Linked DNA regions of Homo sapiens. The protein of the gene in region 2 interacts with the protein of the main gene of each other region in a pairwise test. Each region holds a gene or a part of one and is shown on either strand. Other genes may lie near its edges.

The links.
Region 1: the proteins of FBN3 (region 2) and C11orf58 interact in a two-hybrid assay, tested with the Homo sapiens proteins (one large-scale study listed by BioGRID and IntAct).

Annotation. Positions count from the first base shown.
Region 1 is NC_000011.10:16,748,571-16,752,398, forward strand, and holds part of C11orf58 (small acidic protein), read left to right. Parts: intron 1-3,828.
Region 2 is NC_000019.10:8,064,663-8,067,336, forward strand, and holds the end of FBN3 (fibrillin-3 precursor), read right to left. Parts: intron 1,599-2,674; coding exon 1,257-1,598; 3' UTR 740-1,256; downstream 1-739.

The DNA.
Region 1 (3,828 bases), on a different chromosome or scaffold from region 2:
ACTAAAAAAAAAAAAAAAAAAAAAATTAGCCTGGTGTGGTGGCTCACACCTGTAATCCCAGCTGCTTGGGAGGCTGAGGCACGATAATTGCCTGAACCAGAGAGGCGGAGGTTGCAGTGAGCCAAGATAGCACCATTGCACTCCAGCCTGAGTGACAGAGTGCAACTCTGTCTCCAAAAAAAAAAATTAGAAATGTATAATAGGTAAACATGTTACATATATAAAGTATCAATTATCATGTACTTTGATTTTTAAAAGATGAGAGAGTATATGTCATTATGATATTCTAACCAAGAAACTAACCTTTTTCTGTCTCCATTTTTACTGATTCAGAACATATATTTTAATTGTAGTGAGGTTTTATGCCTCAACTTGTTAACTCTGGTATGTACAGAATTTTTGTTCTTTGTATATTAGCATATAATGTCATAGTTGGCATTTGGTTTTGTGTATTCACTAAATTTTGTTTTAAAATCTTTGAAGAATATAAACTAGTTGCAGGGCCTAAAGAAATAAGCTTTTAAAATAATTTTAGGGAAGAACATTTTTAAATAAAAACTGAAAATGAATTTGGGTATTTGGTGTGCTGAAAAGTGAAATTTTTGCCTATTTAAAACTGACCCTAATCTTGGACATTAGTAATAAAAGGCACATATTAATAAAAGACACATTGACCTAGATTATGTTTAACAAAACTTTAAGTTATTTAAATTATGCTAACACAGCATATGTAGCACATTTTAGAAATTCATAGATCTTTTATTTTTCTAGTGTTAAACAATTACTTCAAATTGATTTGTATTGCTACATAAGGCAAAAAACAATTCCTGAACTTTGCAGAATGGAAAAATATTTCAACTGCCACATTTACTCTTTTAAAACTGAGAGCTTTAAAGCAGGAGCTCCCAATCCCCGGTACCCATCCCTGGCCTGTTAGAAACTGGACCACATAGCAGGAGGTGAGTGGCACGCAAGCCAGAGAAGCTTTATCAGTATTTACAGCTGCTCCCAATGGCTTGTATGGCCACCTGAGCTCCGCATCCTATCAGATCATTGGCAGCATTAAATTCTCATAGGAGCATGAACCCTATTGTGAACTGTGCAAGCCAGGGATCTAGGTTGTGCCTCCTTATGAGAATCTAATGCCTGATGATCTGAATTGGAGCTGAGGTGGTAATGGGGAGTGGCTGCAAAAACAGATTAACATTAGCAGAGAGGCTTGACTGCACAGAGACCGTAATCAATCAACTGCTTGCAGACTCATATCAAAACCCTCTCAGTGAGTGGCAAGTAACAAGCTGCATCTAGTGGCAGGTTTTAAGTCAGAATCTGACATTTAATCTGCATGTGGCCTGCCCATTACTTATTTACCACTTCCATCCATGTCTCTTTCCTGCACTGTGCATTTGTCTCAGTCACAGTTTTGGTAAGCCCACAAGCTAACCCTAGCCAAAATGAGTAAAAAAACAAACGTCCTTGGAGAGCTTCTTTGAAAAGGGGGAAAGACCCAATGATGAGACAGCAGAAGACTCTAATACTGCCAACAAAGAGAAAGTGGCATTTAAAAGAAAATATCAAGAGTCCTACTTAAATTGTAGGTTCATTGCAATAGGTGATTCACATTCTCCAAACCTGCTTTGTCTAATATGTGATGACCAGCTATCCAGAAAAGCCATGAAACCTTTAAAAGTGCTTCACCACATGGAGACCAAACACCCTGCATTAAAAGACAAGCCTTTGGAGTTTTTCAAAAGAAAAAATCGTGAACGCAAAGAACAGAAGTAATTATTGAAGGCCACCACTTCATCAAATGTGTCTGCAGTGAGAGCATCATTCTTAGTGGCTAATCACATTGCTAAAGCTAAGAAGGCCTTTACTACTGGTGAAGAGTTGATCCTGCCTGCTGCTAAGGACATCTGTTGTGAACTCTTAGGAGAGCCTGCAGTTCAAAAGGTGGCACATGTTCCTCTTCTGGCTAGCACCATAGCTAGATGAATTAATAGAGGATATGAGGCACAGTTGTTAGAATTAATGAGTCACTGTGGTACCCAATCCAGGTTAATGAGTCTACCAGTGTTGACAGCAAGGCAACAATGCTTGTTTTTGTGTGATACATTTTTCAGGAGGATGTGCATGAGGATATATTATGTGCACTTTTGCTTTCAACCAACACCACAGCTGCAGAACTATTCAAGTCTTTAAATACATATCAGGAAAACTGAATTGGTCATTTTGTATCGATATATGCAGGGATGGAGCAGCTGCCATGACTGGACGGCTTTCTGTTTTCACTACTCAGGTCAAAGAGCTTGCTTCTGAATGTGAGTCTGTGTACTGTGTCATCTGTAGAGATGCTGGCTAGTTGGAAAATGCCACCTGAACTTACCATTTTGTAGGATGTGCTTAAAATTTTCAACCACATTAAAGTACATGCCCTTAATTCACATCTGTTCATGTAGCTCTGTGAGAAGATAGACACAGAGCACACGTCTTCTCTTATACACAGAAGAGAGACGGCTTCCTAAAGGTAGATCACTGGCCACTGTTTTTCAGTTACAATAGCTGCTCCAGAGATTTCATTTTAGAAAAAGTCACCACTGGCAGCACATTTCGTTGACACAGAATTGGGTCACAAAATTGCTTACTTGGCCAGGCATGGTGGGTCACGCCTGTAATTACAGCACTTTTGGGAGGCCAAGGCAGGCAGATCACTCAAGGCCAGGAGTTTGAGACCAGTCTGGCCAAAGGGGAGAAACCTCGTCTTTACTAAAAAATACAAAAATTAGCTAGGCATGGTGGCACATGCCTATAATCCCGGCTACTCGGGAGGCTGAGGCACGAGAATCACTTGAGCCTGGAAGGCAGAGGTTGCAATGAGCCGAGATCATGCCACTGCACTCCAGCCTGGGCAAGAGAGCGAGACTCCCTCGAAAAAAAAAAAAAAACTTGCTTACTTGTGTGACATATTCAATCTGTCACCTCAGGGGAGAACAAAACTGTGTTCAAGTTGGCAGATAGAGTGGCTGCATTCAAAGCCAGACTAGTATTATGGGGGCCACAAGTGAACATTGGGATTTTTTGACATGTTTCAAACATTAGCAGAGATTTTAAAAGAGACTGAGCCAGGACCTTTTTTCTCCCAGCTGGCACATGATCACCTATCTCAGCCTTCAAAGAGTTTGAGTATTATTTTCCAGCCACGAAAGAGCCCCGAACTGGGAAGGAATGGATTCACAACCCATTTGTGAATAAGCCAGGTGAATCGACTTTGTTCATGCTAGAAGAGGATCAGCTGCTTAAGATCACAAATGATGTTGCCCTTAAAAGTATGTTTGAGACAACTTCACATCTCCATACATTCTGGATTAAAGACAAAGTGGAACATCCTGAGATTGCCACGAAAGCACTGGAAAGCCTGCTTCCATTTCCAACCTCCTGTCTTTGTGAAACAGGGTTTTCTGTAGTGACAGCAGCCAAACAAGATTACAGAGTAGACTGGACATAAGCAACACACTTAGGGTGTCACTGTCTCCCATCACCCCTAGATGGGACCGTCTAGTTGCAGGGAAAACAAGCTCAGGGCTCCCACTGCTTCTACATTATGGTGAGTTGTACAATTATTTCATTATATATTACGATGTGATAATAATAAAGTACACAATAAATGTAATACACTTGAATCATCTCAAAACCACCACCACCCCCCTCCATGGAAAAATTGTTTTCCACAAAACCGGTGCCTGGTGCCAAAAAGGTTGGAAACTGCTGCTTTAAACTTTTAAGTTGCTCTGATAAACTTGATAAGCAAAGAAAGGCATAAAGAAGAGT
Region 2 (2,674 bases):
CCAAGGCAGTAAGACCACTTGAGCCCAGGAGCTCAAGATCAGCCTGGGCAGTATAGGGACATCCCCATCTCTAAGAAAAATAAATGTTAGGCCAGGTGTGGTAGCTCATGCCTGTAATCCCGGCACTTTGGGAGGCCGAAGCGGGCCGATCACCTGAGGTCAGGAGTTTGAGACCAGCCTGGACAACATGGTGAAACCCCGTCTCTACTAAAAATACACAAATTAGCCAGGTATGGTGGCACACATCTGTAGTCCCAGCTACTCGAGAGGCTGAGGCACGAGAATCACTTGAACTCGGGAGGCAGAGGTTGCAGTGATCCAAGACAGCGCCACTGCAGTCCAGCCTGGGTGACAGGGTGAGACTCTGTCTCAAAAAGAAAGAGAAAGAAAAAGAAATTTAAAAAAATTAGCTGGGTGTGGTGGCGTGCACCTTTGGTCCCAGCTACTTGGGAGAGGCTGAGGTGGGAGGATTGCTCGAGCCCGGAAAGTGGCGACCACAGGGAGCCACGATCGCGCCACTGCACTCCAACCTAGGCAACAGAGCAAGACCCTGCCTCAGAAAAAATAAAAAAAAAATCGAATGGTGTCTGGTATGTAGTACGTGGTCAGGAAGCGTGAGCCATTATTACCATTCTGGGGAGCCCATAAGGCCTTCTGCTTCCCCAGGCACAAGATCTGCCTCGCCCAGTCCAAGGGCAGCATCTACTTACTTCAAGAACTTGCCAAAGGGCAGGCAGACTTAACCCAAAATAACTTTATTATCGTCTCCACTTTTGATATAAAAGCATTCTCCAAATGGGGGGCAAATGTGGCAAGTCACTGTGGAGTCTGGGCCCCCTGTACACCCTTCTACTCCGAGGAATAAGCCCTGTGCCCACCCCAGTTGCCCATTGCCATGTCCTGCCAACCCCCTGCCCCCCGCCAGGGCAAGCCACAGTGCAGTACAGAAGTGAAAGCCTGAGATTGGCCAGACACGGTGACCACAGGGCCTCTTCCTGACCTTGGCTGTGGGGGCAGGGGGATTGCACATTGCAGCTTCTTGCTGTCTCCAGGAAAGACTGAGTAACTGGGGGGCCCCCGGGGCTGGCACAGAGGCCCAGGCAGAGGCCGGGCTTGCCTGAGGTTGTCGTGTAGCATTTCACTCTTCCTGAGTTTCGGGGTTCAATCTGGTCAGCCATCGCTTCTGGGGATCAGTCCTTCCCAGTTCCAGAATCCCCCTTCTCTGGACAGCTGGGGCCCACTGAGGCTCCTCCCAACTAAAGCAACTGCAGCTGCACCTTCAGCCTCAAGGCCTGGCCCCATGGCCCTGGCTGCCCCTCTGGCTGGACACCCCAGGGTCCTGCCATGTGGCTCACCACCTCCAGCCGGTAGGTTCCAGGCCCCGGCCGCCTCCGCCCCAGCTGCAGGGAGCTGACGCCACGGAGGTGATGCATGCGAAAGAAACCTTGCTCGTTTCCGCGGACGATGACGTAGCGGATCCGGCCCTCTAGACCCTCCAGGGCCGGCCGGAGCTCCAGGATGCGCTCGGCCCGGCCCAGGTGTGAGAGGTTCAGGCCCAAGGTCAGCAGGGCCTCGGAGTCAAGGGTGGCCAGGTTCACCTGGGAAGAAAGGCCAGGTGTGTGGTCAGAGCCCAGGAGAATCGGGATGTGGTGTGGGTAGGGGGTCCTCGGATTGTGGCCAAAGAGGAGATTCTGGCCAATCTCTAAAGTGAAGGAAAGAGCCATAAAAAGGAATGAAATCATGCCATTTGCAGCAACGTGGATGCAGCTGGAGGTCATTATCCTAAGCTAATTAATGCAGAAACAGAAGACCAAATACGGCATGTTCTCAGTTATAAGTGGGAGCTAAAAATTGCATACCCATGGACATAAAGATGGGAAGCACAGACACTAGGACTACTAGAGCAGGGAGAGAGGGAGGGAGACAAGAGTTGGGAGGCCGGGCGCAGTGGCTCACGCCTGTAATCCCAGCACTTTGGGAGGCCGAGGCGGGTGGATCACAAGGTCAGGAGTTCGAGACCATCCTGACCAATATGGTGAAACCCAGTCGCTACTAAAAATACAAAAATTAGCTGGGCGTGGTGGCGGGCGCCTGTAGTCCCAGCTACTTGGGAGGCTGAGGCAGGAGAATCGCTTGAACCCGGGAGGTGGAGGTTGCAGTGAGCTGAGATCACGCTACTGCACTCCAGCCTGGGCAACAGAGGAAGACTGTCTCAAAACAAATAAATAAATAAATAAAAGGAAAACTACCTATTGGGAACTATGTTCACTGTTTGGATGATGGGATCAGCAGAAGCCCAAACTGCCTCATCATGCAATATATCCATTTATTAATAACAAACCTGTACCCTCTCAATCTAAAAAAATAGGATGGGCACAGGGGCTCATGCCTATAATCCCAGCACTTTTGGAGGCTGTGGCAGGAGGATTGCTTGAGGACAGGATTTCTTTGTTTCTTCTTCTTTTTCTTTTTTTTTTTTTTTTGAGATGGAGTCTTGCTGTCGCCCAGGCTGGAGTGCAGTGACACGATCTCGGCTCACTGCAACCTCTGCCTCCTGGGTTCAAGTGATTATCCTGCCTCAGCCTCCCAAGTAGCTGGAATTACAGGTGCCTGCCATCATGCCTGGCTAATTTTTGTATTTTCAGTAGAGACAGGGTTTCACTATGTTGGCCAG